Regions from separate parts of the Homo sapiens genome. Here regions 1 and 3 are each reported to be linked to region 2. Evidence: microRNA targets listed by miRTarBase, many of them from high-throughput screens and not tested one by one. Region 2 holds a microRNA gene; each other region holds the end of a gene's coding sequence.

The links. Region 2 holds the annotated microRNA hsa-miR-6871-3p (CAGCACCCUGUGGCUCCCACAG, at 4,046-4,067, shown strand). A microRNA usually pairs through its seed, bases 2 to 8, with sites in the 3' UTR of a target mRNA and lowers its output. Matches are read on the target gene's strand: a 7mer-m8 pairs with bases 2 to 8, a 7mer-A1 pairs with bases 2 to 7 and ends in A, and an 8mer does both.
Region 1: miRTarBase lists NKIRAS2 as a target of hsa-miR-6871-3p. Seed matches in the 3' UTR shown: 7mer-A1 at 7,565-7,571.
Region 3: miRTarBase lists FAM3D as a target of hsa-miR-6871-3p. Seed matches in the 3' UTR shown: 7mer-m8 at 4,533-4,539 and 7mer-m8 at 4,677-4,683.

The regions. Positions count from the first base shown.
Region 1 is chr17:42,023,230-42,032,606 of GRCh38, reverse strand. NKIRAS2 (NFKB inhibitor interacting Ras like 2) reads right to left here. Exons shown (of 4, transcript NM_017595.6): 4 at 6,966-8,953. The coding sequence ends at 8,714. It overlaps ZNF385C (zinc finger protein 385C), which reads left to right. Exons shown (of 9, transcript NM_001392013.1): 5 at 823-988; 6 at 3,534-3,824; 7 at 4,361-4,557; 8 at 4,879-4,989; 9 at 5,474-7,031. The coding sequence ends at 5,710. Among named protein-coding and RNA genes, the nearest start is that of NKIRAS2, 7.8 kb to the right of the region's middle. RefSeq lists enhancers at 3,062-3,850, 7,621-7,670.
Region 2 is chr20:41,165,012-41,175,451 of GRCh38, forward strand. It overlaps MIR6871 (microRNA 6871), which reads left to right and starts at 4,012; the gene lies at 4,012-4,067. It overlaps PLCG1 (phospholipase C gamma 1), which reads left to right. Exons shown (of 32, transcript NM_002660.3): 13 at 1-90; 14 at 234-356; 15 at 439-540; 16 at 628-815; 17 at 1,183-1,383; 18 at 1,465-1,584; 19 at 1,668-1,848; 20 at 2,841-2,918; 21 at 3,756-3,859; 22 at 4,068-4,164; 23 at 4,446-4,515; 24 at 5,101-5,258; 25 at 7,182-7,278; 26 at 7,410-7,634; 6 more. The coding sequence ends at 9,498. RefSeq lists an enhancer at 8,504-8,553.
Region 3 is chr3:58,628,278-58,638,717 of GRCh38, reverse strand. FAM3D (FAM3 metabolism regulating signaling molecule D) reads left to right here. Exons shown (of 10, transcript NM_138805.3): 8 at 1,493-1,577; 9 at 2,298-2,424; 10 at 4,350-4,772. The coding sequence ends at 4,439. It overlaps FAM3D-AS1 (FAM3D antisense RNA 1), which reads right to left. Exons shown (of 4, transcript NR_134853.1): 3 at 6,058-6,179; 4 at 4,278-4,662. Among named protein-coding and RNA genes, the nearest start is that of FAM3D-AS1, 26 kb to the right of the region's middle. RefSeq lists an enhancer at 9,359-9,860.

The DNA of each region.
Region 1 (9,377 bases), not on the chromosome of region 2:
AACAAAGGGATGAATGTTCTGGGGTACATACACCCCAAAGTGTGGGGATTGCTCTGCTTTCTCCATTTGTGCATTGATACACTTGATAACTAACATTCATTGAGCACCTACTCTATGTACTCGGCCCTTGTAATTCATGTTCCCATGTAATTCTGACAACCCCATGAGGTCAGTATTATCATCACAGGGTTTATGGGTGAGGAGACTCAGGCTCAGAGAGATGTTACTTGCCTAAAGATGTAGTTAGTGGCCAGGCGTGGTGGCTCACGCCTGTAATCCCAGCACTTTGGGAGGCTGAGGCGGGTGGATCACGAGGCAGGAGATCGAGACCATCCTGGCTAATATGGTGAAACCCCGTCTCTACTAAAAATACAAAAAATTAGCCGGGTGTGGTGGCGGGCGCCTGTAGTCCCAGCTACCCCGGAGGCTGAGGCAGAAGAATCGCTTGAACCCGGGAGGCGGAGGTTGCAGTGAGCTGAGATGGCGCCACTGCACTCCAGCCTGGGCGACAGAGCGAGACTCCATCTCAAAAAACAAAAAACAAAAACAACAACAACAACAACAAAAAGATGTGGTTAGTAAGTGGCTGGGTCAGATCTGAAGCCAGAGGCAGCCTGCCTTGGAGTTCATGTGCGAGAACACATTCTGCAAACCTCAGAGCCACATGTGCTATGGTGATGATGATGACAAGGACAAGGACTTGCCCTTTGTGTGACCTGAGCCCTGCCTCCCTTTGACCTGTCCCCCTGCTGGGCTCCAGTTCACAGATGGGGCATGTGGACTCAGCCAGTGAATGGTGACCTCTTGCCCTCCCCTCCCCAGAACCAGGCCGAGGCACATTATAAAGGCCACAAACACGCCAGAAAACTCAAGGCTGTCGAGGCTGCCAAGAGCAAGCAGAGGCCACACACCCAGGCCCAGGATGGGGCTGTAGTGTCCCCAATCCCAACGCTGGCCAGTGGAGCCCCTGGAGAGCCACAGAGTAAAGGTCAGTCCTGAGCTCTTCTCTTTCCCACGTCTCCACTCCAAATCTGGTTTCCGACAAGGGGTTGAGAGATTTCTGCTTATTCTTTTTGCTTGTGTTGGAGTATTCCATACAGACAGGCAAAGGCACACAAGTGTACCACGCCATGAATTTTCCTAAGCTGAACACACCCAGATCAGGAAACACGTTACCAGCACCTCAGAAGCTTGTCTTGCACCTCCTCCTGGTCATTACCTTGAAGTATTCATTTCCAAGGGCTGCCTTCACAAATGACTTCATTTGTGAAGTTAGGAATGGTGGCTCACATGTTGTGATGGTTAACACTTTGGGAGGCTGAGGCGGGAGGATTGCTTTAAGCCTGGAGTTTGAGACCAGTCTGGGAAACATGGTGTGACCCTGTCTCTACAAAAAATTTATTTGCCAGGCATGATGATGCACACCTGTAGTCCCAGCTACTCAGGAGGCTGAAGCAGGAGGATCTGCTTAAGCCCAGGAGGTCGAGGCTGCAGTGAGCTATGGGTGACAGAGCAAAACCTTGTCTCTAACCTCCCCTGCCCACCCCCACCCCCAAAAAAAGAGACTACAACCTGGGTGACTGAAAACAACAAAAATTTATTTTCACACAGCTCTGGAGGCCAGAAGTCTGAAATCAAGGCGTTGACAGCATTGGTTCCTTCTTGGGGGCTTAGAGGAGAAAGTGTCCCATGCTTCTCTTCTGGCCTTTGGTGGCTGCCAGTATTCCTTGGCACTCCTTGGCTTATAGACGCATCACTCCAATCTCCACCTCCATCTCCACATTCTCCCTTGTGTGTCCCTGTGTTTCCACAAGCTCTTTTTATAAGGGTACCAGTCACTAGATCAATCCCACCCGAACCCAGCATGACCTCATCTTAACTAATTTTATCTTCAAAGACCCTGTTTCCAAATAAGGTCACATTCTGAGGTTCCAGATAGATGTGAATTTTGGGGGAGACACTATTCAACTAACTACAACCCCTCTGATGGTAAATACGATCCTGACTTTTCTCAGCATAGATCAGCTTTACCTATTTTTGGTGAAACATAGAGTGTGCAGGGGTTTTTTTGTATCTGTTTTGTTTTGTGGGTTTTTTTTGTTTTGTTTGTTTGTTTTTTGAGACAGAGTCTCGCTCTGTCTCCCAGGCTGGAGCACAGCGGTGCAATCTTGGCTCACTGCAACCTCTGCTTCCTGGGTTCAAGCCATTCTCCTACCTCAGCCTTCCAAGTAGCTGGGACTACAGGTACCTGCCACCACGTCCAGCTAATTTTTGTATTTTTAGTAGAAACGGGGTTTCACCATATTGGCCAGGCTGGTCTCGAACTCCTGACCTTGTGATCCACCCACCTCGGCCTCCCAAAGTGCTGGGATTACAGGCGTGAGCCACCCTGCCTGGCCGGTATCTAGTTTTTATTCATCTCTCACAAACATTCATCAACATTCATTATATCTGTAAGATTCATCCATGTTTTTGCGTGTAGCTGTAGTTTGTTCTCTTTCATTGCTGTGTAGTACTCCACCGTGGATCATACCACTATTTTTTTTTAATTTAAATTCTTAAAAGCTCTTTTTTTTTTTGAGACAGGGTCTGGCTCTGTCACCCAGGCTGGAGTGCAGTGGTGTGACCTAGGCTCATCCACCTCCCTGGCTCTCAAGCGATTCTCCTGCCTCAGCCTCCCAAGTAGTTGGAACTATAGGCATGTGCCACCATGCCTGGCTAATTTTTGTATTTTTAGTACAGATGGTGTTTCGCTGTGTCACCCAGTCTGGTCTCGAAGTCCTGGACTCAAGTGATCTGCTAACCTTGGCCTCCCAAAGTGTTGGGATCACAGGCGTGAGCCACTGCGTCTGGCCCATACCACTGTGTTTTTTTTGTTTGTTTGTTTGTTTTTGAGATGGCGTTTCACTCTGTCGCCCAGGCTGGAGTGCAGTGGTGTGATCTCAGTTCACTGTAACCTCCACCTTGCAGGTTCAAGCGATTCTCCTGCCTCAGCCTCCCGAGTAGCTGGGATTATAGGCATGTGCCACCACGCCTAATTCTGTATTTTTAGTAGAGATAGGGTTTCACCATGTTGGCCAGGCCAGTCTCGAACTCCTGACCTTAGGTGATCCACCTGCCTCGGCCTCCCAAAGTGCTCGGATTACAGACATGAGCCACCGTATCCAGCCCGCACCATTGTTTTTTAAAAATCTGCTCTCCTGTTGGTGGACATGTGGGTAGTTTCAGTTTTATGATATTATGAATAGTGTTCTCTGAACATTCTAGTACATCTTTTTTGGTGATCTCTGTTTAAGTTAGCAAATAAGGATATGAGGGCTGTGAGGGCTTTCTGAGACCACTGTGTCCAACTTAATGATTTCAGATGGGGAAACTGAGGCCCAAGTCTGCCCAGTGAGTTGGTAGAAAAGTGGGGCCTGGAATTCAGTGCTGGTCATCCACCAGGGGCCCTCCAGGCCACCTCCATGGTCAGAGCTGAAGATCGTGGTCTGCAGCGTCATCTTGGGTCTCACACTCTTCCATCTCTGCAGCAGTTCCTGCAGCCCCTCCTCTTGGGCCTCCACTCCAGCCACCACCAACTCCAGACCCTACATGCAGGGAGCCAGCCCACTCAGAGCTCTTGGATGCTGCCTCCTCATCCTCTTCTTCCTCCTGCCCACCTTGCTCCCCAGAGCCTGGGAGAGAGGCACCGGGGCCTGAGCCAGCGGCAGCTGCCGTGGGAAGCAGCATGAGTGGGGAAGGCAGGAGTGAGAAGGGGCACCTCTACTGCCCCACGTGTAAGGTGACAGTGAACTCGGCCTCCCAGCTTCAGGCTCACAACACAGGTCAGTAGTCCCAGGAGCTGGAGCCCAGGGAAAGGGTGGGACAGAAGCTAAGCCTCGCCAGATGAGGGCAGGCTTGAGTTCCTGGGTGCTTCGCTCAAGGGTTGGATGGCGGAGGCTTTGTGCTTGTGTGTTACTGAACGGACGTTTCTGGGTCCTCCCATTACTCCTTGGGGAAGGAGAATTGGGAAGAGAAGTCTGAGGCAGCAAGAACTGAAGGTCGCTAAATCTCTGAAGGGTCACTCCACAGGAGACAGGAGACATCTGCCTCTCTCCTTAGATTACACCCAGAAGGAAAGGACTGAGATCAAAGCAAAGGGGAAGGCAGCTATTTGTAGTGCAGAAAGGCCTTTCATAGGAGGGGCTGGCATGAAAGGACAGAAGCTGGGAGGGGAAACCACGTGTGGCTGGAGGGCGATGTGTGCACAGAGCAGCCGTGAGGCTTACAGGGAGAGCCAAATTGCATGAGTGTGGAGGGGGTCTCTGTGGCCCCTGCAACCCCTTCCTGCTGCTGAGAGACTGCCTTCTTCCCTCTCCAGGAGCCAAGCACCGGTGGATGATGGAAGGTCAGCGAGGGGCTCCCCGGAGGAGCCGGGGCCGCCCGGTGTCCAGGGGAGGTGCCGGACACAAAGCCAAGAGAGTCACAGGGGGCCGGGGCGGCCGGCAGGGGCCCAGCCCTGCCTTCCACTGTGCTCTCTGTCAGCTCCAGGTCAATTCAGAGACCCAACTGAAGCAGGTGGGAGAAGTGAGGCTGTGACTGGGGTTGGAGCCAGGGGAGGGGGTTGGGGGGCAGGGCAGCAGAGGGAGGGACCCTGAAGAGAGCAGGCAGGGCACAGCAGAGCAGGCTGGAGAAGCGAGGCCAGCAGGCCAGTGGGCCAATTAAGGGCAAAGGCCAAGACTCACCTCCCCTTCCCAGGGCCTACCCCAGGGTGAGGACCCAGTCTGTGTGCTTTGGATGTATGAGCTGTGGATAGAGGAAGGGGAAGAGTCGAGGATGATGGTCTTGGGGTCCTTGGGCTTTGTCATCTTGTTCCCAGTCTGTCTGTCTGTCCATTAGCACATGAGCAGCAGGAGGCACAAAGACCGCCTGGCCGGGAAGACCCCCAAGCCCTCCAGCCAGCACAGCAAGCTGCAGAAGCACGCAGCGCTGGCTGTGAGTATCCTCAAGGTATCTGTCTCCAGGCAACAGAGCTGGGACTGGGTCAGGAGGGGAGAGGGTGGGCTGGGAGGGCCAGATGGGGGGGCTGCGGTGGGGCAGGAAAAGAGGCCACCCTGCAATGAGGCTGCTGGGCAGTGACAGAGCTAGGCCTGGGAACTGGGATCTGCGCAGAGGAATTTCCGGGGAGGTGGGTTGGGATAGTCATCTTAGGGGCAAGAGTGAGGGGTGGGCGTGCATCTCCTAGAGACCATCTCTATCCCGTAAATCCTCCTCCCTTCTCCCATGCTGAGACTTTCCTCCCTCTGGACAGGAAGACAGGTGGTGGAGAAAGCCCTTCGGAATGAATGTTTGGGGGTGGGAAGGGAGGAGGATTTAGGTTTGGAACTCTAAAAGGCACGCTTTCCCTGCAGCAAAAAGCTTGAGGATGGGCCCCAGGGAGGGGGTGGGGTTTTCTGGGGTGGAGACTGTGTCCATTCCTTTCTTTTCCGTGTAGTCTAAACTGGCCTTGCAGAAGCAACTCACCAAGACGTTGGCAGCCCGCTTCCTGCCCAGCCCGCTCCCCACCGCAGCCACTGCCATCTGTGCTCTGCCAGGGCCCCTGGCCCTCCGCCCTGCCCCTACAGCAGCCACTACCCTCTTCCCGGCTCCCATCCTGGGCCCAGCTCTGTTTCGCACCCCAGCAGGAGCTGTCCGCCCTGCCACAGGACCTATCGTCCTTGCCCCTTATTAGCCCTCATGGGGAGGCCAGAGCTGATTTCCCAATAGCCACTCCTTGTCTCCTCCTGTCCTGAGACACCTTGGTTTCCTACATGCCACAGGGACTGTGAACAGCTTCAGGGGTCCTGCCCGATCCAGAAAGAGCTGGGCTAGTTTTAAGGGCAGCTGCCTTCCAAGGACTGTCCCCACCCTCCTTTCGCAGGCCTTCCAGGGTTAATCCTAGGCTTGCCTGCATTTCCCACCCTGACAGACCCCAAAGATCTATGCAAAATCTCAGCCCCAGCCATGTGGTGCTCTCACTTTCCTCCACCCAAGACCCACATGGCCAGACTCTAGGAATCTTAGCTTCTACAAGCCATCCTCTCCTAGCCAGGGGACGACTCTCTGACCTCTATTCCTAGGCTTTGGGGCTTCACTGGAGATAGGGATGGGGTCTCTAGCTGCAGCAGGCTCAAGGCTGTCAGGACAAGGTGACCATGGGAGTGTGACAGAGGACCATGGAGGAGAAAGGGGGACCCAAAAGTCCTTCGATCAGCAGTGCTAAGGTGGGGCAGAGCCAAGGAGGTAGTGGGGCTGGTTCTGAAAGCTTTTGGGGGCTTCATCTGCTCTGAAGGGGTGGGACTAAGAGAGGAGGTGATGTTCTGGTTGGGCCCAGGGTTTTGTTTTAATCTTAAGTCTTCTGGGCATTCATGGGCCCAGTCTTTTTTTCTGTCTGAGAGTATCATTCTGTTGCCCAGGTTAGAGTGCAGTGGTGCAATCTTGGCTCACTGCATGCAGCCTCTGCCTCCCTGGTTCAAGTGATACTTGCTGATAAGCCCAGTCTTAATATTGAGGGAGTAACTCATCCCTCAGAAGCTCTTCTTCTTAGCCTTTCTCTGACTTCCTGAACCCCAACTCTTGGAGGGCGGGTGTGGGTCTCCCTCAGACTATGGACTCAGCTAACACCGAACCCCCCGCAGAGCTCCCAAAGGAAGAGCTTTCCCCTACAGCTTCCCACTCCAAACTGGTCCTAGCACTAAATTCAGCTTTCCCTTCTCCCAACCAGCCCCTGCCACTGTGAAGCTGAGTGTTGGGAGGCAGTCTCACATGCACTGGCAAGACCCATTTTCATGCTGTCAATGTCAATGTCACAAACTCCTTTCCACTGCAGCACTGCCCCCTCCCCACCCCACAATATGGGACCCTGCCAGTATCCCCCTGTATCTTTTTTTTGTTTTTTAAAGACATTTCCAATGGGAGAACCAGAAAAAGGGGGAGGGGAGGGAAACTTTTTGATAACAATTGTGGTTTTATTGTGTCCAACCAATGCATCAATAAATGAACTTGAAGCCCAAGCCTGTGTGTGTCCTAATTCCACTCACCCAGCCCCGGGCACCTGCCCCACTCACCTCTGGCTTTGAGAAGGGGCGTGTGTCGGTGGTTGCCTGGCTGCAGTGTCTCACCTAGGCTAGGTGTGCACCTTAGAAGCACAAAGCGGGCACAGTTGTGGGTAATAAGCTTACTCTGCAGGCCGCTGGGTGTGTGCCCACCCTCCTGAGCCCCGAAAGAGGACCTGTCAGCTCCTGAGAGGCTGCTACGGGTTTGCCTTGTTCTGTTCAGGCATCTGAGGTAAGAAGGAGGGGCCAGAGGAGCACCTTGTCCAGCCTTCACCATGAGAGCGGGCATATAAATATAAATACAGGTAACTTATAAATAGAAGTCCAGCTCTGAGCTGAAAACCACAGGCAGGATAAAGAGCAGCCTCCAAGAGCGAGGCTGGCGGGCTGGGCACTGAGCGGCCACTCTGGTGACTGACAGCAGGTAGTGCACTCCTGCCCCCTGGTGGCTGGAGGGAGCGGCAGATCCCAGCCTCCAGGGCTGGTTGGCATAGCACCTTAAAGAGGGAGAAGCCATTGGCTTTACGAAATCAAGAGAACTGGAAAGGATCTAGGAGATCATCTAAGCAACTCTGGTCATCTTACAGATGAGAAACTGATGCCCAGAGAGGGGAAAGGTCTTGCTGGGTCACAAAGTGGGCTGGTGACTCATAGCCCAGTTATTCTATTCCATCTCAACCAGTGAGGCCCATCTGCTCCCTGAGCAGGAAGAGGAAGTAAAACAATTGGTAGGGGTGGGGAATTTTTTTTTTTTTTCTTCGAGATGGAGTCTTGCTCTGTTGACCAGGCTGGAGTGCAGTGGCACGATCTCGGCTCACTGCAGCCTCCGCCTTCTGAGTTCAAGCAATTCTCCTGCCTCAGCCTCCCCGGGTAGCTGGGATTACAGGCATGTGCCACTACGCCCGGCTAACTTTTGTATTTTTGGCAGAGATGGGGTTTCACAATGTTGGCCAGGCTGGTCGTGAACTCCTGACCTCAAGTAATCGACCCGCCTTGGCCTCCCAAAGTGCTGGGATTACAGGGGTGAGCCACTGAGCCCAGCCAGGGGTGGGGGATTTAAAACAGAAAACTACACTCCCAGGAGGCCAACTTCTTCCAGCCAAGAAAAGGACAGGAGAAAGGTCAGGGTGAGGGATGAGGAGACGCCTAATGCCAGTATAGGAGCATATTTGTGTGTGCACAACTAAATGCATACACACAATACCTGGACACCCTTTTTCTGGAGTCCAGGCTGGTGCCATAAGTGTGTGTGTGTCGCTGATGGGAAGCCCAGAGGGTGGGGCCCCTACCTATAATAGGAACTCAGACCCAAGAAGGGACACTGCTGCGTGGTGACTCTGCTTCCTGTCTGGGGCAGCTGGAAGGGACAGTGACCCACAACTGCCCCAGGAGACAGTGGAGCAGATCCTCTAAAAGCTGGGATGGGGAGTAGGCTGGGAGGGCTGAGGAAGGGGATGTCAACCAAGAGTATTTGCACTTCCCAGAGGTGAGAGGGAGCAAAGTGGCTGGGGCGTGGCCTGGCGGGGAGCTCCCTGGCTGACTGGGAAAGACAGCTTGTCCTCTACTTTGCCCTCAACACATCTACCAGAGCCCCAGACACTGAAATGGGGCTGGGATCGTGAAAGAGGAACGGCAGCTCTTCAGCCATCCAAGGAGCCGCTGCCCTTGTTCTTCCGGCTGAGGGGGAAGGCAGACTTGCTCTGGGGTTGCGTCATCTTGCTGGCCAAGTAGACAAAGGGCTCCAGGAGGGAGCGCCGGTCCGCCACTGACACCTCCCACAGCTTCACCTTCTCTGACTTGGCCCAGTGCTGAGCCACATCTGGGTCTACACGCCGCTGCTCCTGTAAGTCACACTTGTTGCCAAGGACCACGATGGTGACCTGGGGAAGAGGGACAGAGCATAGGCCTGTGAATGTACCATAGAACCAGGAATGGACATGGGGGCTGGCAACCACCTAGGAGTTCTATGAGAGGAAAGCTCAATGGCTGATATCTCATCTCTTTCTAGATTCCATACCACTCATTGTGGGGAAGGAGATGGTTGCTTTTTTTCTCTTTCCTCTGTTCAAATTCTGGCCTCCATCTAGCCCTCCTTTTAGGAGTTCTATCACCAGCTCTGTATTGCCCATACATGCTCATTATTAGCAGTCAGTTTCTGGCTCAACAACAGGTGAGGAAGCACTCCCAGAACCCTGCAGCTTACTGTGGGATTCTGGAGAACAGAAGGGCCTTCGTGGCCAGATGCAGTGGCTTACGCCTGTAATCCCAACACTTTGGGAGGCTGAGGCAGGTGGACTGCTTGAG
Region 2 (10,440 bases):
CTGGGGGACACACTCCTCACCAAGCCCGTGGAGATCTCTGCCGACGGGCTCCCCTCACCCAACCAGCTTAAGAGGAAGATCCTCATCAAGGTGGGGTGGCGGGCTTATTGCGGAAGCCCCACACTTCTCAGTGCCTTGCCCAGGCCATGGCTTCAGCTGTTGGGCCTAAACCTGGGTGAGGAGGTGGGGTGAGGACTGGGGTCTGCATTGCCCTGTTCTGGTTGCCCCTACAGCACAAGAAGCTGGCTGAGGGCAGTGCCTACGAGGAGGTGCCTACATCCATGATGTACTCTGAGAACGACATCAGCAACTCTATCAAGAATGGCATCCTCTACCTGGAGGACCCTGTGAACCACGTGAGGACTGGGCCAGGCTGGGGGTGGTAGGCCAGTGGGTGTGAGGACCCTGGCTCACAAGTCCCTCTTTGGTCTGTTCCAGGAATGGTATCCCCACTACTTTGTTCTGACCAGCAGCAAGATCTACTACTCTGAGGAGACCAGCAGTGACCAGGGCAACGAGGATGAGGAGGAGCCCAAGGAGGTGAGGAACCAGCTCAGGTCTGGGGGCTGGGCCAGGTCAGGCCTGGGCCAGGGTCACAGTATCTTTGCTGTTGCCTTCCCCTGACAGGTCAGCAGCAGCACAGAGCTGCACTCCAATGAGAAGTGGTTCCATGGGAAGCTAGGGGCAGGGCGTGACGGGCGTCACATCGCTGAGCGCCTGCTTACTGAGTACTGCATCGAGACCGGAGCCCCTGACGGCTCCTTCCTCGTGCGAGAGAGTGAGACCTTCGTGGGCGACTACACGCTCTCTTTCTGGTAACACTTCCCATGCAGATGCGTATGTTCAGTCAGCGTGTGTACACAGACATCACATCACCCAGAGATAATCAGTTAACATTTGAGCCTTTGATCCAGGACAATAATTAGGCTTTACATGGAACATAATTTCACCTACATACACACACACACTCTCTGTCTCACCCCCCCCCCATACCCCTCCCTTTTCGGTTCATTTGAAGCCCACACCTTTGGTTCATGTGACTGCCCACACCTGAGCTCCTCAGGAGATTGGCCTCCCTCCTTGAGGCTCCCTCCTTGAGTTCCACCCTCATTTGGGGTGGAACTTGGTCTTTGGGGCCCTGGCCTGTTTTCCCCAGCCTCCCTCACTCTGTGTCTTCCACAGGCGGAACGGGAAAGTCCAGCACTGCCGTATCCACTCCCGGCAAGATGCTGGGACCCCCAAGTTCTTCTTGACAGACAACCTCGTCTTTGACTCCCTCTATGACCTCATCACGCACTACCAGCAGGTGCCCCTGCGCTGTAATGAGTTTGAGATGCGACTTTCAGAGCCTGTCCCACAGACCAACGCCCACGAGAGCAAAGAGTGAGGGAAGGGCCTGGGGGCGGACAAGGCAGGGCAGGGCCATGGGTGGTGCTGGCCGGGCCTGACTCTGCCTGTTCTCAGGTGGTACCACGCGAGCCTGACCAGAGCACAGGCTGAGCACATGCTAATGCGCGTCCCTCGTGATGGGGCCTTCCTGGTGCGGAAGCGGAATGAACCCAACTCATATGCCATCTCTTTCCGGTGAGGGGTGTGGCACTGGGTTGTGGGGCCTTGCTTGGGTCTGAGCTGCCCTGACCCTGTGTGACTGTTTTGTCCTTGTGAAGGGCTGAGGGCAAGATCAAGCATTGCCGTGTCCAGCAAGAGGGCCAGACAGTGATGCTAGGGAACTCGGAGTTCGACAGCCTTGTTGACCTCATCAGCTACTATGAGAAACACCCGCTATACCGCAAGATGAAGCTGCGCTATCCCATCAACGAGGAGGCACTGGAGAAGATTGGCACAGCTGTGAGGGGGCTGTGGTAGACGGGGCATGGCAGGGGAGGCAGGAGAGACCCAGAATCTTACCAGTCTCTGGATGTGTGTAACAGCAAGACCTGGTGTGTTGTAGAAGTTCGTGGGAGGGCCCCTGACTCCAGCTGGGAGCCACAGTGTGGGTACCAGGAGGGTGTCTGCAGGAGGGGACATCTGAGCAGCATCTTTAAGGATGGGGACAGGCACATAAGCAGAGGGTTCCTCATGAGTCAAGATGTGGAGTGAGGAGGTTCTGGGGCTCACACTGGGAGAGGTGCACACAGTGGAAACTCATCCACCTGGGCTTGGCCTGGACTCTGTCCTAGGGCAGATGAGATGAGGCTACCCAAGAGTGGTTGTGGAGCCTCCGCCTGGTGGATGGTATGGAGGGCAGAGCCACAGGAGGTGAGACCAGTGAGGGAAAAAGTCAGGACCCATGGCAGCACAGCTGGTGATAAGGGCCCTGGACAGAAGGAAGGGGTCTAGGACCAGAAGATCAGTTGAGAGACTGCTGTCGTCAGTAGACAGGGCTGGCTGGGGAGAGAGAGGCCTGTTGTCCACTGGCACCTGGGACTCAAGTGATGGAGAGGAGCGGCAGGAGGAATGTGGGGAGTGGGAAGGCTTTTCCTGACTTTGGGCTCAGCAGTGAACCAACAAGCCACTGAACTAAAGCACTGAATATGGGTAGTCTGTGAAGGGCCCACCTGCACATAGCTCAGAAATACTTGGGAGTTTGGGCATTTAGGACCTGAGAGATTTTAGAATCCTGGGCTGGGCCTTACATGTAAGAATGTGAAGAAAGGAAAGGGAACAGTGAGGCCGGGCCTGAGGCCTCTGAAGCCGTCTCTACTGAGGTCGAAGGATCCCTGTGGATCAGGTGCAAGTTTGCTGCACTGGGGGAAAGGGAAGCTGCTCCAGAAACCAGTAGCTGCTTTCTACCTCTGGGCTCTGGGGCATTAACATATCCCATTGTGTCCTGTTTCCAGGAGCCTGACTACGGGGCCCTGTATGAGGGACGCAACCCTGGCTTCTATGTAGAGGCAAACCCTATGCCAACTTTCAAGGTACAGCTCAGGCCTCTGGGCATAGGAAGCTGGGGAGGGTCCCCAGCTGCTTGGGGCTTCATTTCTGTGTTCTGGGCCATCTGTGGTCTTTGTGGAGAAGTGGTGGTTGTGGTTTTCCGAGGCCCAAGAGGTTGTGAGAGATGTGTGGTTGGTGAGCGACCGCAGGTCTCCCAGGGCCGACCCACTCCCTAGCCCCTACCCCTTAAGTCAGCAGTGACCCTTTAAACTGCTCCTGTGGGTGACCCCTGTTTCCTTCCTGGGCAGCAGCGGGGTAGGAGCTGGGAGGCACACTGGCCACTCATTCCCCGGCCTCATGGAGCCCTGTTACACAGGTTCTTTTTTGTTTTGCCTTTTTCTCTAAAAAGGCCTGGGCCCTATTTCTCACCCCCTCCCCTCCACAGCCAGGGGACCTGGAAGGAAGTTTTTCTTTCCACTTCACAGATGAGTGGTAGGGTCCCATCCAGGCCCCATATGCTTCCAGGTCCCGGGGAGGCACTCAGGGCCACTGCAGACCCTGCCTTCTTGGCCTGCCAGCCCTGACTCCTGGGAGCGGATTCAAGGTTCTCCCTGTGGCCCAGGGTGGGGCTTAAGGTTCCACCTGGGTCCCGAGGTATTTCACTGGCAGAGGCCCTGCCTCTCTGATCATATCTGTCCTGGAGCTTCCCTGCAGGGCAGTAACAAGAACTATAACTAGGGCCTGTTGATGGCAGTGTCATCTCCCACTGGCCTGACCCCAGGCAGGGAAGCCCAAGCACATGTGTGTGTGCACATGAAGCCCCAGGTTGGCAGTGGCAGGGAGAGCCTTTCTGCTCTGACTGGTGCTTCTCACCTCTGCAGTGTGCAGTCAAAGCCCTCTTTGACTACAAGGCCCAGAGGGAGGACGAGCTGACCTTCATCAAGAGCGCCATCATCCAGAATGTGGAGAAGCAAGAGGGAGGCTGGTAAGCCAGTGGTGTGGTAGGCCCAGAGTCCAAGGGCCCCAGTGGAGCTGGGGCCCCAAAGACATGCATTTGTGATGTGCTTGTCTCCTGTGTGCACCAGCAGTGCCTGCCTCACCCTGGCTTAGGCATGGGAACCCCTACCAAAGGATACCCTCCTCATGGGAGTTCGGGGTGGTTGCTGGAGGTCAGCACCCTGTGGCTCCCACAGGTGGCGAGGGGACTACGGAGGGAAGAAGCAGCTGTGGTTCCCATCAAACTACGTGGAAGAGATGGTCAACCCCGTGGCCCTGGAGCCGGAGAGGGAGGTAAGACCAGAACCACCTGAGTAACAGCATTCCCTATTCCCAGATTCTCCTTGGCATGCCCCCATCACACAGTCCCAAGCACGCACGTGCATGCACAGACACCTGTCACATGGGCTGGTCGCACAGCCCATGTGGCCATGCACGTAGTCTCCCATATACCTGTGCTACATTTGGCAGTCACAGGTACACCCACAAGATGTATTTGTCCCATGCACACGGATATCCCCTCACACACATATGCAGTAGCCATGCTGACCATTGGTGGGCTTTGCTTCCCACAGCACTTGGACGAGAACAGCCCCCTAGGGGACTTGCTGCGGGGGGTCTTGGATGTGCCGGCTTGTCAGATTGGTGAGCTCCCATCTGTTTCTCTTGCCCACTGTTCCCTAGGGTGAGATTCTTCTTTGTATCTCTTTCCTGCTCCTAGGGAGGAAGCTGATGGCTGAACCCCAAAGTCTGCCCTCACTCCAAGCTCTCCCCATGCTCTGGACATCCCCTTGACACCCTGGGCTCCCTTTGTCACTGTCAGCTTTGACCCCTGCATGTTTACCTATGCCAGGCACTGGGGAACCCGTCAGAATCAGCAGAACAAAGTTGATGCTGCTGGTTGGCTGACATCCCCAGGCCTAATGGGTTGTACCACAGGGATGTGACAGAGGCTTGGAGATGGGGTGGAGAGGGAGACACGGCCTGAGGAAGAAGCATGAGTCAGAGCTGAGTTGGAACACTGGCTCCACCACAACCAGCAGTGACTTGTTTGAGTTGTAGCGTCGTCATCTGTCAAATGGGCCAGCAGAGTAGTCCTTCCCCTCATGGGGTGTGGGAAGGAGGAAATGGGATGAGATAGAACTCATTTGAGCCAGTGCCTGCGGTGTGGAGTGGGGTGGAGGGGGTGAGATGTCTATTCCCAGCTGTTATCTGCTCTCGCCCTCCCAGCCATCCGTCCTGAGGGCAAGAACAACCGGCTCTTCGTCTTCTCCATCAGCATGGCGTCGGTGGCCCACTGGTCCCTGGATGTTGCTGCCGACTCACAGGAGGAGCTGCAGGACTGGGTGAAAAAGATCCGTGAAGTGGCCCAGACAGCAGACGCCAGGGTGAGATTCTGCTGGAACCTTCTGGGGGGCAGTGTGTGGGCCCGTCAGGCAGCTGAGGCCTCCAGCTCCCAGCACAGGCCCCCTCAGAGCAGTGGGGCAGCCGATGGCCTATGCTAGATAGGCCACAGCCCCTGCCTTAGCTAGGGATTGAGAAGAAACAGACACATAAGATGCAATGTGGTGTGTTTAGGTTGTGTTGAGTTTGAGATACTGATGGGTCGTTGAAGTGGGTCTGCTTAGTGGGCAATTGGATACACAAGACCAGAGGTAAGAGGAGAAGTCCTGGGCTGGAAGCAGGAGTGGAGTGGGGGCTGAGGCATAGAAGGGATGAGGTGGTGTCGCATAGGAAGAGAACTTGGGATGGATTGAGAAGCTCCATATGAGAAGGCATGGGCGAGGAAAGGAGCCCAGGAAAGGCAGGTCAGACAGACTGCAGGCCACTGGTGAGGGAGAGGGTCTGCTGTGTTGAGAGCTACAGAGGTAAAGACAGGAACGATAAGAACTTGCAAGTGCCCTTTGGATTCAGCAGCAGCTAATAGCCCTTGTGAGACTTTTGAGCTGCATCAGCAGCATGGCTGGCATTAGATGGCAGTGGGCAGCAGGGAGTCTGGAATGGCAAAAGCAGAGCCTTTGTAGGGCCTGTCCTTGAGGGAGAGAACAGGTGACTGGGGTTTGAGCAGGCTCTCATGCAGATGGCTGAAAGGAGCGAGCAGCGTGTGGGAGGAGATGGAGCCCAAGCTTAGCTGGTAGGACCAGCCTTCTGGAGAAGGTGGCCTCTTCCCCTGAGCCTGGGGGAACAGAGAAGTATTCTCAAGGGTTAGGGAATTCCTACTTGGTGGCCCTTTCACCAAGTGCATTTGGTAGATGGGTCTGTAGCTGCTTTGGAGAGGGCACCCGCAAGCCAAATAGAGAAGGGATAGGGTGCTTGCCAGGCTGTCCCCTAGAAGGAAAAGGTGCTGGCATACCAGGTGGTTGAAGGACTGGATCTGGGGGTCTAGGCTGAAAAGGGAAGAGTCTGAATGTAAGAGCCACTGAGGCCGGGCGTGGTGGCTCACGCCTGTAATCCCAGCACTTTGGGAGGCCGAGATGGGCAGATCACTTGAGGTCAGGACTTCGAGACCAGCCTGGCCAATATGGTGAAACCCTGTCTCTACTGAAAATACAAAAATTAGCCGGGCATGTTGGCCGGCACCTGTAATCCCAGCTACTCGGGAGGCTGAGGCAGGAGAATCGCTTGAACCCGTGAGGTGGAGATTGCAGTGAGCCGAGATCACGCCACTGAACTCCAGCCTGGGCGACAGAGCAAGACTCTGTCTCAAAAAAAAAAAAAAAAAAAAAAAGCCACTGAAAGAAAGTCCTCCAGGAGAGGATGGGTTGGGGTGCTTGTAAGTGGGCTTCTGTAGAGATTTGGCATGGAGATTTGCCATGAAGAGTGGGTGGTTATATTTGAGTTGGGGGCGCTGAGGCAGTGAGGATCATCCTTAGGACACAGATGGAAACCAAGCCAGGGGCCTGTATCCCCAGTGCAGTCACAGGTAACACAGAAGAATCATTTTTACCCCAGCATGAGGCTGGGTAATAAATGGTCAGAAAGTGTCATTTGGGAGTGTGGCCAATTCCAGGATCCCTGGAAGGTCACTGGGAACATGGGTGGTGATGAGGAGTCTGTATCCCCCACCCCCCCTAAGAGGGTTGGAGGGCAAATGTGTCCTCTGGGACAGAAAAGAGGAAAGATGATTTCAGGATGAGGCTGAGGACAGAGCTCCCTCATTTACTGTTGGGTGTGGTGTCTGGAAGGTACAGGGGAAGGTGGGAGAGGGGCCCAGAGCACCTGCAGTGTGGGCATGCCCAAGGTTGGCAGGGGCTTCCTTCTCCTGGGCAGGGCTGTAGCCTGGGGCTACAGGGCCTTGTGTGTGTCACCAGCTCACTGAAGGGAAGATAATGGAACGGAGGAAGAAGATTGCCCTGGAGCTCTCTGAACTTGTCGTCTACTGCCGGCCTGTTCCCTTTGATGAAGAGAGTAAGGGCCAGGGCCCAGGCGGGGTGTGCATGTGCCTGGAGGGCCTGGTGGGTGCAAAAAGAGTATTTAGGTATCCCCCCAACACTTCCTGGGTGGGCGGGCTCTGTAAGTGTTTTCCCTGTTTGGCCCAGAGATTGGCACAGAACGTGCTTGCTACCGGGACATGTCATCCTTCCCGGAAACCAAGGCTGAGAAATACGTGAACAAGGCCAAAGGCAAGAAGTTCCTTCAGTACAATCGACTGCAGCTCTCCCGCATCTACCCCAAGGGCCAGCGACTGGATTCCTCCAACTACGATCCTTTGCCCATGTGGATCTGTGGCAGTCAGCTTGTGGCCCTCAACTTCCAGACCCCTGGTGAGGAAGTCCCCTGTGAGGAGGGTGAGGAGGGGCACTGTGGGGCAGCTGGACTGGAATACACCATAATCTGCCTCTTCCAGACAAGCCTATGCAGATGAACCAGGCCCTCTTCATGACGGGCAGGCACTGTGGCTACGTGCTGCAGCCAAGCACCATGCGGGATGAGGCCTTCGACCCCTTTGACAAGAGCAGCCTCCGCGGGCTGGAGCCATGTGCCATCTCTATTGAGGTGGGTGCTGCTCATCTGGGCTTCAGGGTAGGAAAGGGGCTGCTTGCCGTTGGAGTCTGTTTATGTTGAGTTCTCCAAAAGTAGGTATTTTCAGGCATCAAGGTGGTCAGGGTGGGTGGGGCCTGAGCTGAGTCTTTGAAGGGGTGAAGATAGCATGCAGTCACTGTATGCATCTAGGACGTGCAGAGCCATGGTGTGACTTGTTCTGATGACTTGTTTTGTTCTGATGAGATCTTTTTTTTCCCTAAGGGGAGGTCATTTAAAAGATTTCTGTGTTAAAATAGTAATGGATTTAACATGAAGTAGATTGCAAAACTCACATGGAAATTTTGGCTAAAGCTCAGACTTCAGATAAACTACAGGCAGCAGCTGCTCTGGACAGCTTAGGGTCCCTGATGTCGTGAGGGACTCCATGGGCAGTGTCCCGGGGGCCCAGCAGAGGGCGCGCTGCCTCCACTCCACAGATGCTGACTGAGCCTCCGCAGTGGGGAATTGGAGGGAGCAGGAAGGACAATCCCAGGCCCTTCTTTGTCTGCCTACAGGTGCTGGGGGCCCGACATCTGCCAAAGAATGGCCGAGGCATTGTGTGTCCTTTTGTGGAGATTGAGGTGGCTGGAGCTGAGTATGACAGCACCAAGCAGAAGACAGAGTTTGTGGGTCAGTCTGTCTTCCCAGTCATCCTCCTCATCCTGCTGGGGCACTGCAAGCCTCTCCCCACCAGTCATCCCATCCTCTCCCACGGTGACCTGAAGCCTTTTGTCGTTGCCTTCACAGTGGACAATGGACTCAACCCTGTATGGCCAGCCAAGCCCTTCCACTTCCAGATCAGTAACCCTGAATTTGCCTTTCTGCGCTTCGTGGTGTATGAGGAAGACATGTTTAGTGACCAGAATTTCCTGGCTCAGGCTACTTTCCCAGTAAAAGGCCTGAAGACAGGTGAGGACCATTCCTGGAGGCAGTGCCCCTGCAATCTTGCTGGCAGGGTGGGGCTGGGCCCCTTGCTCTGTCCCTCGTGGGCTGAGGGCCAGGCTTTTCCTCCTCCTAGGATACAGAGCAGTGCCTTTGAAGAACAACTACAGTGAGGACCTGGAGTTGGCCTCCCTGCTGATCAAGATTGACATTTTCCCTGCCAAGGTATCTGCAGCAGGGGTGGGCTGGCCTGGGGTAGGTGGGAGGAGAGCCAGGCAGCAGCCTCTAGAAGTGCAGAGGAGTCATTGACCCTCTTGTGCACCTGGCTTCGTTGAAGCAGGAGAATGGTGACCTCAGTCCCTTCAGTGGTACGTCCCTGCGGGAGCGGGGCTCAGATGCCTCAGGCCAGCTGTTTCATGGCCGAGCCCGGGAAGGCTCCTTTGAATCCCGCTACCAGCAGCCGTTTGAGGACTTCCGCATCTCCCAGGAGCATCTCGCAGACCATTTTGACAGTCGAGAACGAAGGTGAGGAAGATGGAGGGGTGCTAGAGCCAGGAAGGCAGTGGCTAGGTCCTCCTTCTTCAGTGTTTCTTTCTCCTGGGTAGAAAAGTTGTAATATTGTCTGGCATTGGGCTGCAAGGCCCTGCCTGCCAGTAAGGACACTCTTCCCTTCTGTCCAGGGCCCCAAGAAGGACTCGGGTCAATGGAGACAACCGCCTCTAGTTGTACCCCAGCCTCGTTGGAGAGCAGCAGGTGCTGTGCGCCTTGTAGAATGCCGCGAACTGGGTTCTTTGGAAGCAGCCCCCTGTGGCGGCCTTCCGGGTCTCGCAGCCTGAAGCCTGGATTCCAGCAGTGAATGCTAGACAGAAACCAAGCCATTAATGAGATGTTATTACTGTTTTGGGCCTCCATGCCCCAGCTCTGGATGAAGGCAAAAACTGTACTGTGTTTCGCATTAAGCACACACATCTGGCCCTGACTTCTGGAGATGGATCCTTCCATCTTGTGGGGCCAGGACCATGGCCGAAGCCCCTTGGAGAGAGAGGCTGCCTCAGCCAGTGGCACAGGAGACTCCAAGGAGCTACTGACATTCCTAAGAGTGGAGGAGGAGGAGGAGCCTTGCTGGGCCAGGGAAACAAAGTTTACATTGTCCTGTAGCTTTAAAACCACAGCTGGGCAGGGTGAGAAGCTAGATGCCCCTGCAGTTTGGCCCTGGAGCCAGGGCAGAGGAATGTAGGGCCTGCATGGAGAAGGGTTCTGCCCTGCCTGAGGAGGAGGACACAGCACAAGGGCACATTGCCCATGGCTGGGAACATGACCCAGCCTGAAAGATACAGGGGATCATGTTAAAAATAGCAGTATTATTTTTCGTCTCAATGGTATTGTAACTAAGTTATTTACTCCTCCTGCTCCTCACCCCTGTAGGGAAACCTTGGAGAGGAGAGTGGCAGGTGGGCTGCCTGCTGTGTTAAGAGGACTTAGTTTGTGATGTAAGGCACTGTCAGGAATGGGGGGCGGGCCAGGGTGGGAAGAGAAGAAATAGCAGAGCCTATTTTGGTGAGGTTTTTTGTTTTTAAGTCAAAGAAGACTCAGTATGCTTTCCCTGAGGAATGAAAAAGGGATTGAGGAGTTGCCTGACTCCTGGGTGGGTGGGGTACAGGCAGT
Region 3 (10,440 bases), not on the chromosome of region 2:
TAATAATCAAGGCCAGCTTTGTGGGCCTATGACCTGGGGACAGGGCAGTCACACGGGGCCCATGCTTGGAAGAATCTCACACTTGACTTCATGCTCTGCCATCGTGGTCTTGAAATACTTAATCATTTTTTATTAAAAGGCCCTGCATTTTCATTCTGCACTGGGTCCTGAAAATTATGCTGCCAATCCTGCTAATAATTTTTGGTTCCATTAGAGTACGCTTACTGTATGCCCAAAGTTATTGTCACATTTGCACTTCATAGAGGTTATAAGCAGGGCTGTTACTCATCCTCATTTGACAGATATAGTCTCTGCTTTAGCCACTAGGCTGCTTGTTCCCAAACTTGAGCCCACTCGAGTTGCACCATATCTAGAATAATATCTGCATTATTAGTATTTTTCTTTAAATTGGATCACTTTTTTTCTTACCTAAGTAAATATATCTTAAAAGGAAACTATATTACTGCCTTAAATGGAAAGCTATTATCACTTGTTATGCAGGGAAGGTGACCATAAAAATAATCACAATGGAGGGCCCTGGGACAGTGGCTTATGCCTGTAATCCCAGCACTTTGGGAGGTCGAGACAGGCAGATCACCTGAGGTTGGGAGTTCGAGACCAGCCTGACCAACATGGAGAAACTCCAATTCTACTAAAAACACAAAATTAGCCAGGCATGGCGGCGCATGCCTGTAATTCCAGCTACTTGGAAGGCTGAGGCAGGAGAATCGCTTGAACCCAGGAGGTGGAGGTTGCAATGAGCGCAGATCGCGCCATTGCACTCCAGCCTGGGCAACGAGAGAGAAACTCTGTGTCAGAATAATAATAATAATAATAATCACAAGGGAAACAAATCAGCCTCTTCACAGTGAGCTGGATGCTGATGCCTCCCCCAGGTGCTAAACCTAGAGCTGTTCTCTGTTAAATAGAGAGCTTGGCAAGTTAGGGAGGCATTAAAGACACACGCAGAGCCTTGCTCCTTGACACAGCAGGAGAGTTGTATTCATAGTCTACTCGAATTCTCTCCCAGGGATCTCAGTTGTCTGAGGCCACGTGCTATACCACCTAAAGTCAGCACAGATAATCTGGGCATTGTCCAGCGTAGAATGGGGTCTGGGGTATGCAAAGGGCCCAGAGCACCTGAGAGATGATGGCACTTCGTCCCCAGAGGGGTAGGCACACAAGGGCCCTTCTACCAGTGGTGGTCACCCTCAGCTGCAAATCCCTGTCACGAGGGGAATTTCTAAATTCCAGTGTCCAGAAGCCACCCCACATCACCTGGATGAGTTCCCCTCACTCTGGTCACTCTGCCCTCCCCTAGGACAAGGGCTACAGGGAGCTCCACCTGGGATGCTCTTCCTCCTGGCTTCTGAGCTCAGCCCAGTGTCCACCGGGCCTAGCTGACTCCTGCATCATGGGGCAGTAGACAAGCATGAGAATGACCAGGGCTCATTTCCCCTAAATCACCAGCACCTTTTCCTTCCTCCCCCAGATGTTATGCACCTAGTGAAATTCCTTAAAGAAATTCCGGGGGGTGCACTGGTGCTGGTGGCCTCCTACGACGATCCAGGGACCAAGTAAGTAGAAAACTCTACCTGCCAGGCCACACAGTGATGCAAACTGAATACCTTCAAACCCTGCACACCCTTTTCTGCTCTTTTGCCAGATCCATTTTCTGGCAACTTATCTCGAGGAAATTATCAGACAAGTATGCAAAGAAATGTTCTAGGAGGTTCATCACAGCCTTCATTACCACAGTGAAAAACTGGAAACCCTCTCCCTGTCCAATAATAACAGCTGACTGGCTACAGAAACTATGACATACGGTGACATAGGATATGATATATACACAAATGAAGATAGACTGCATCAAAAATGATGGTGCGGAAAGTATTTAAGGACGTGGAAAATCGCTCACCCTCTAGTGCTAAGTGAGGGGAAAAAAAAACACTGTATGGAAATACATACACTGATCACACTAAGGGGAGGAGGGGTGAGACTGTATTTCTTAGTTACTTCTTTGTGATCTTCCATATTTTCCAAATGAATGTGTATTGTATTTGTAAATAGAGCAGTACTGTTTTAACACATCTCCAGCCCCATCTGAAGCCCTTTTAGAGAGGAAGTCTTGAAGCCCTTTACCCTGTCCTTCCTGAGTGCAGCCACGTTCTCTGGACACCCCCAGGGCAGATGCTGAATGGGGAGAAGAGTGGGAACCTTGCCCCATGGGAATCCCACCACCTGATGCCCCTGCGACCCACCCCCGCATCCTGACCATCCTCTCTGGTCCTCTGCAGAATGAACGATGAAAGCAGGAAACTCTTCTCTGACTTGGGGAGTTCCTACGCAAAACAACTGGGCTTCCGGGACAGCTGGGTCTTCATAGGAGCCAAAGACCTCAGGGGTAAAAGCCCCTTTGAGCAGGTGGGTTCTGGGCCACAACCCGGCCCTATGAAGGATGCATGAGGAGCTGGGTGGTGGTAGGAAGGAGTCACCCATTCACCTCCCAGGGGCCTTAAAATTGGGAGGATTGTCTGGGGAGAGGCCCCTGGCTGTCATTCACTCCAAAGGCCAGGGTGGTCTGATTGGCCAGGAAGCTGCCTTGGCCATTTCGCAAAAGCTGGGTCATATATAGATACGCAGGTATACAGATAATTATCAGAAAAGGAAGAGGGAAAAGGAGAAAAGAAGGATGATGGGCAAGTGAGGCATGAAGGAACGAGAAAGAAATGGAGACATGGAGCTGTGTGGCGGGGAAGGGGATCCCGGGGAAAGGAGCAGGATGCCTGTCCCCATCCCTTCAGCCTCCCTGGCGAGGCATGGAGAAAACGAGGAGGGAAGTCAGAAGGCAGGGAGGAGGCCGATGCCATCATCAGACAAGAGGTGCTGGAGGGGGCAGGTGCAGGGAACCGTGTGCTGAGCTCTAGGAAGGGCACCAGGACTGGGATGGGAGGATTTCTTTCCTAAGCTAGAAAATGTGGTCTTGGTCTGTATGCGTGTGTTTCTAAGAGGATGTATTTGGGTAACTAGAAATTACTTGAACGCAGTGAAGAACGCAGGAGGCCGGTGGGCGGGGGCGGCCGGGTGTGGTTCCCGAATGTCCTGTGGGGGTGCTGCAGCAGGGCCCTAGCAAGAGGCAAGAGGTCTGAGGCTGCATGGGCAGGTGGTGCTTTCCTGCCCCAAAGCGTGGGCTCCAGACCCAGGGGAACCGGCAAGACAGAGGAGGCGTGGGAGTACAGGAAGCCCAGCATCATCTTCATCCATCTGCAACCAGCTGGCCGGGACCGACACACAAAAATGAACCAAGCACCCTAATGGGACTAAGCCGGTCTGTTCTTAGTCCTCACACTTGGGAAACTGGGTTTTAGGCAGGTAGCATCTAGAATCTCTTTTTTAATTCCTGAGAGTCAGCCACAATGATTCCAACAGCAGATTTTGCCATTTACGTTTTTTTCTTTCATAATCCAAACCTGAGCATTTTAGACACAATCCTAAGTGATTTTATTCTTCTTACATACTTATTACTAGTATATATATATTTTAGAGATAGGGTCTCGCTCTGTCACCTAGGCTGGAGTGCAGTGGCACAATCTCGGCTCACTGCAGCCTCGACCTCCTGGGCTCAAGCGATCCTCCCGCCTCTGCCTCCTGAGTAGCTGGGACCACAGGCATGTGCCACCACATCCAGCTAATTTTTTTATGTTTTCTAGAGACAGGGTCTCCCATGTTGCCCAGGCTGGTCTTGAACTCCTGGCCTCAAGTGACCCTCCTTCCTTACCCTCCCAAAGTGCTGGGATGATAGGTGTGAGCCACTGCACCCCACCCCTTATTATTAGTATTAATTAATATTATGTGGTGGTTCTGCCACTTACCAGCCAGTGACTACGGGCAGTGACCCTCTGTGCCTCAGCTTCCCCATCTGTAGAATGGGATGTAAACAGTGCACACTCCCTAGGGCCACTGTGCAGATTAAATACATAAGGCCCTGCAGAACACCACGTGGCATACAGCAAGCGCTCAAGACATGGTCGGAGTCTTCTTTTTATTGTTGCTATCATTATTGTTATTTGAGGTATCCTAGAGGGACACAGAGAATTTGTGGGGAGGGGCCAGATCTCTCCAACAACTGGTTACCCTTCAGGGCGTGAGAGCAGTTAACTGGGCTCTGATCCCATCTCTGAGATCTTGAGCAAGTTGCATCCCCTCTCTGAGCCTCAGTTTCCCCATCTGTGAAGTGGGTTAATAACATCCCACACCCCCATTTAGGTTTAGAGCACAGTGTCCATGTGGGCATGAGTTCTGAACAGCCTCACTCACTGCCTATATTTCTCTGTCTTCTCTCTCTCTAGTTCTTAAAGAACAGCCCAGACACAAACAAATACGAGGGATGGCCAGAGCTGCTGGAGATGGAGGGCTGCATGCCCCCGAAGCCATTTTAGGGTGGCTGTGGCTCTTCCTCAGCCAGGGGCCTGAAGAAGCTCCTGCCTGACTTAGGAGTCAGAGCCCGGCAGGGGCTGAGGAGGAGGAGCAGGGGGTGCTGCGTGGAAGGTGCTGCAGGTCCTTGCACGCTGTGTCGCGCCTCTCCTCCTCGGAAACAGAACCCTCCCACAGCACATCCTACCCGGAAGACCAGCCTCAGAGGGTCCTTCTGGAACCAGCTGTCTGTGGAGAGAATGGGGTGCTTTCGTCAGGGACTGCTGACGGCTGGTCCTGAGGAAGGACAAACTGCCCAGACTTGAGCCCAATTAAATTTTATTTTTGCTGGTTTTGAATGAGCTTTCTGACCACTCCAGTGGCCACGTTTCTCCCTGGGATTGAACTGCTCCAGACTCAGCATGGGCCATGGGTTCAGACAGGTCTGTGACAGCTTCAGGCTCCCCCTTAGGCAGCTGGGAGGGAGCTGTGTTTCTAGGATTTCCCATGGGCCTGAGAGAATCCTCAGTTCCTGCATAACATGTGGGATGGACAGGAACAGAGGGAGCTAGGGACAGGATGCAAGAAATACTGTCATCACCCTCTGTCTGAAGGAGAGCTGGAGCAAGTCCAGAGCAGGAGTGGGAGAGGAGGGGCACATCTGAACCTGGCTGGAAGGAGCCGCCAGGCTGTGCTGCAGGCTTCAGGGAAGGCAGCCGGGCTGTCTCCGCCCCAGGAGCGGACCCTGAGACAAGGACTCAAGGGCAGCCAGTATATTTGGGAGGTGATTGTGGGAAACACCAATAGAGAAGTAGGGAAGTGAGATGGCAAAGGGAAGGAGGGGAAGGCAGCCAGTGAAGGGTATGGTTTCAACCCAGCTACCCCTGTGGGGACTGGAGCTGACTCCCACCCGAAGCTCTAGGAATCGGGGTAGAACATGCACCTTGGAGATACTCCACCCGGGAGTGAGGGAGCTGGGGTATTTACACACCGACTCCCACTAGTGGTTTGTTGAGGGCTTCTGGTGTTGGGGATGATATGAATTCCTAGGTGCTTCTTGTCTGCCCTGCCTAGGGAAGAGTGGCCCTCTGTGGCTTCACAGCAAGCCCCCAGCCAAGAGATGGCAATGCCAGCTGCAATGGCAGGAGCACATTGAAATGGGAAGGCCCAAGGATACGGTGTCAAGACCTGCCTGAGGTTTCTGAGAAGGGCCCAGTTCCCAGGCTCTAGACTAAGTCTTGAAAGGAGGTCGTGGGGGCAGAAAGCATTGCTACTCAGCCTCCTGGAGCATGTGCTGGGGACACTACACCTCATGGAGAAGAAACCCTCTGCCCAAGCACAGATGCCCACCAGTGGTCTGAGACTCACAGCTCCCAAGTCCTGGGGCCAGGGAGCACTTCAAATGTGCCAAGATAGCCTGGGGTAGAGACAATAGTGTGTGTGAACCTTCCACCAGGGGCCACGGCAGGTGGGACACGGGCTACAATTGCAGTGATATCAAAATCAAGGTCCAGGCCAGGTGCGGTGGCTCACGCCTATAACCCCAGCACTTTGGGAGGCCGAGGTGGGCGGATCAACTGAGGCAAGGAGTTTAAGACCAGCCTGGCCGACATATAAAAGTTAGCCAGGTATGGTGGCACTGACCTGTAATCCCAGCTACTTGGGAGGCTGAGGCAGGAGAATCGCTTGAACCTGGGAGGCGGGGATTGCAGTGAGCCGAGATTGCACCACTGCACTCCAGCCTGGGTGACAGAGCGAGACTCCATCTAAAAAAAAAAAAAAAAAATTCAAAGAGCCGGCGGGGAGCCGTGCTCAGGGTTGGCTGAGGAAGTCAGAAGGTGCCCATCCAGACATCCTGTCAATTCTGTCACTCCCTGCCCAACCCACCCCAGCTCACCCTCACGGATGAAAGCGGGAGCATGCTGGCAGGCCTGAATAACCACTTCCAACCACATCAGTAGACTACCTGGAAAAACATCTGCCCAGAAACCTGCTCTGGGAATGAAGGTGGCATGAAATTTTCATGATGACCATAAACACCTTTGAGAGCTCGGAAATTTCACTTTACAACAAGCAGGAGTACCTTGTAAAATTTTTAAAGAACATATAAAGACCTCTAAAATGAGCTCATGAGCAGGGACCAGGGCTAGGCAGAGGGCTCTTGGCAGTGGCCACTATTTTAAGACATGGGGTAGCTGCCTCATTGAAGAGAAGACACATGGACTTTTCCAGAAACTGCACTGCACAACACTTCAAAGAAGACTGAGAACATGTCAACTGGCTCAATCAGAGAATTCAGGGAAGCGTCCCAGGTGCCCTTTCCCAGATTTTGTTACTAATGGTCAGTCTGAACTCTTCTTTGGAGAATTGCCCTTGGGCTACTCATACATTCTTTGAGCACAAGTGCAAAGAAGACAGACCAGGAAGCTGGGGGTGTGTACACCACCCCAGGATGGTCCTTAGCTAATGACTGGCAGGTATGGGAACGTGAAAGGCCAGCTCTTTATTTTGGGGCATGATGACGACCACGAGGTGCAATTTACACTCCAGGATTCCCAGAGGGATCAGGCGGGAACTGGGACTTTGCCTGAAAGTGTCCCTTTGCTTACCTCTTTCCCCTTTCCCATCCTGCTCCTCCACTCCCTTACCAGTGTCCCCAGGGGCCAGTCCTTAACAAATCACCTACACGACAATCCCTATCCCGAAGTGGGATCCTGGGGTACCCATCCTAAGAGAGGTGGTGGGCATGGCCAGCTGGATGGGACTGAGCCTGAGCCTGGGCTGGGAGATAAGACCTCCAGGTCTGCAGGAATTGTTGTCATAAAAGGGATCAGTTCTCAAGGAGAAAGAGCTCAGAGTGGGGGAGCTGCACTTGCCACTGCCATGTGGAGCCCATGGAAGAGGCAACGTGCTGTTCCACACCAGGGAACACAAGGCAAAGATTAGGGATCATGCCCCACTCCAGCTTCCCACTCCTTCCTCAGATGCCCAGAATAAGTCAGAAGATAAGCCCAAGTAGCCATCATTGTACCCCCATAACCCATCAAGGAGACTGCATTCTCGAGCCAGCCACACTAGGCCCCTCTTGGGTGGGTGTTACAAAAGTGGCAAACACCTGTCAGACTCTCAACGTCATTTTCAGGACATTGTGGCCACTATAGGGACCCCCAGGTCAGCTCAAGCTGTAAAGAGTTGGGTCTTTATCGCCAAGATTTTCATCACTCAGCAAACCTGATATGCATCAAGAGTCCGGCAGGCTTGGGGATGCTGCAGTGAAGAAAACCCAGCACCGTTCCCACTCAGTCTAGCAGGGGATACAAATCCAGAGGCGACATGGCTTGGCAAGGGGAAAGACTGCAGGACCGCTGCCCCAGCCTTGGGGGATCCAGGAAGGCATCCTGGAGAAAGCAGCACCCATGCTGAGCCCTCAGGAGTGTGTAGGAGCTCACCAGGCAAAGAAGGGAGGGAAGGGCATGTCAGGCCAGGGAACAGCATGAACAAGGCCTGGAAGGGGCAGAGGATGGGTAACAGGGCTGAGTGGGAGGTCAGAGCCCGAGGGGCCTTGTGAGCTGGGCAGAGGGCTTGGACTTTGTCCCAGGGCAGGGGACACACTGGGAGATTTAAGCTGGGGGCAAGGTGACCAGAGCTGCATGTTTTGAAAATTCCTTGCTGCTGTGGGAAGGAGTGGAGGAAGGGAGGCCAGTGAGGAGGCTGCCATATCATCCAGGAATAGAGGGTGGTGGCCCGGACCAGGGGCCTGTCCCAGGGATCATCAGAAAGTGAAATGGATAAGACTTGGGACACATTTTCTCACTGGGGTCGACAAGCCTTCAGGAATCTCTGCAAGCTAATCGTGGCCTCAGAACTGGGGGCTTGGATTTGCCTCCCCACTCCCTGCCAATGTGCCTCCCACCCATCCCAGGAGTGAGGATGGGGCTGTGAGGGGTGGGGTCGTGGAGAGAGCTTTCCAGAAGCTGTAATTCTTGTCTTCACCAGTAGGTGGCGGCACAAGCTAGAAAGGGAAGGGTGGCAAGGTCTCCCCACACACCCAATTCGGGAAAGGCTGTTGCGCCTAATGAACTCATTATCTGGGACTTCCCAATGGGCACTGGACTTATCTTCGGCCTTGCTGATAGTGTAACAATTGCAGCACCTCACTTCTACAGAGAATTGCAGTTCTCCAGACGTTCTGCTCAGAGCTTTACATGAATTACCTCATTTCATCCTCATAGCCCCCTCGTCCACGGGGTGGGAACCATTGTCATCCTGTTTTACACAGAAGGAAGATGAGGCTCAGAGAGGTCAAGTGACTTGTCCAAAGTCACATAGATAAGGAGTCTCAGAATAAGGGCTGGAATTCCAGTCTGTCCCCAACATTACACGAAACAGATATGTTTGCCCTAAACCTACTCTCAGGTAAACAGAGTTTCTCCCATCCTCCTTCTCCTCCTCTCTTCCCCACTTCCCCTTTTTCTCCTCCCCCTCCTGCCCTGCTCCTGAATGCCTCTGAAGACTTTTGAAGATTGCACAGAACCTCAGAGTTAGCATTCTCAACACCTGCCTTCATTGCTTTGGAAGAGATGGAGAGGAACTGGGTTCAAGGGATTTAGAACTCCTCTTTTTAAAACCCAAAGCCCCCCTCACACTTCGTAAGCCTTACTTCCTTCTATAAGGTTGTGGGTCAAGAAGGAACACATGTTTACTCTCATGTTTTAGATGGAGAAAGAGAGTCTAAGGGATGTGCCCAGCCACAGAGTGAGACAGGGCAAAGATGGATCTAGAACACCTGCTCCTTGGTCCTCCACCACCAGCTGTCACCTCATAAATCATCTGTTCACGTATTCCAAGTACATCCTCTGCGCCAGGCATAGTGCTGGGCTCTGGGGCCTCCACCCCCATTCCTCCTGCCCATGCCATGTGGCCTGAATGTTGCATTTTGGGCCATCATCCTGCCAGGGCCTGGACTTCAGAGCCCAATCACAGGCTCTGTCAACCAGGCTTTCACTGCAGCACTAAGCCACATTTCGGCAGGGCTCCAAACAGATGGAAAACATTAATAAATGCGTAAGAATCATTTTCTTTCCTCCCACCCCACCAAGAGTCAAGCTGGTGGATAATTATGGGATGGTTGCCAAAGGAGTTTGATCTTCCGTGTTGACTTACAGCATTTTTACTGCTCCATCTGAAGGCCAATTTAGTCATTTCCCTTTACAATTTTGTGGACTCTCTCCTTTCTGCAGGAAATCCGAAACTGTAATCAGGCCACGACTGGAACAGGGAGAAAAGGAGTGGGGAGCAGCCGAGGAAGGCAGAGGCTGAACCCAAGGGAAGGGGCGGAAGGAAGAAGCTACATGTTTGCTTGGCTGGAAGGGTCATGGGTATCGGAGGAAATACAGTAACAATAACAACAGTATTAAGCAGTGCCATGAAGCGAGCACTTTCGATGAGTCAGGACTGTGTTAAGCACTCGACCTACTTAGACTATTTCATTTAATCCTCCATCATGGATTCTTCCACTAATATTGCTCTAGACTCGGGGTAAACTGAGGAGCAGGACAGACCAGGCCCTGGTCTTTGTGGAACTGCCATTCCAGAGGAATGGCAGAGGAGACGGACAATAAACACCGAAGTCATATCATTTCAGTTGCTGATGAGTGCTACAACAAAGTAATAAACAGAGAGCCTGGGAACTGCTTTGCACAAGGCAACAGAGAAAGCTTCTCTGAGGAGCCTGAAGGACAAAAAGGATAGAATCAGGCAAAGATCAAAATATGGGCAGTGGAGGGGAAGTGGGGGAGAGAACATTCCACGCAGAGAGAATAGCAAGTGCAAAGGCCCTGAGAAGGGGGGAAAGGTGCTGTGACCCAGAAACTACCAGGGAGAGGGAGGAGAGGGAAATGAGGTCCTAGCAAGACAGTCAATCAGACCTTGCAGACCATGGGGTGTTTGGTTCTGTTGGCAAGGCTGGATCTAGAATGCCTAATTCTTGACCCTCCACCAGCTGCCATTCCGTAAGTCATCTGTGTA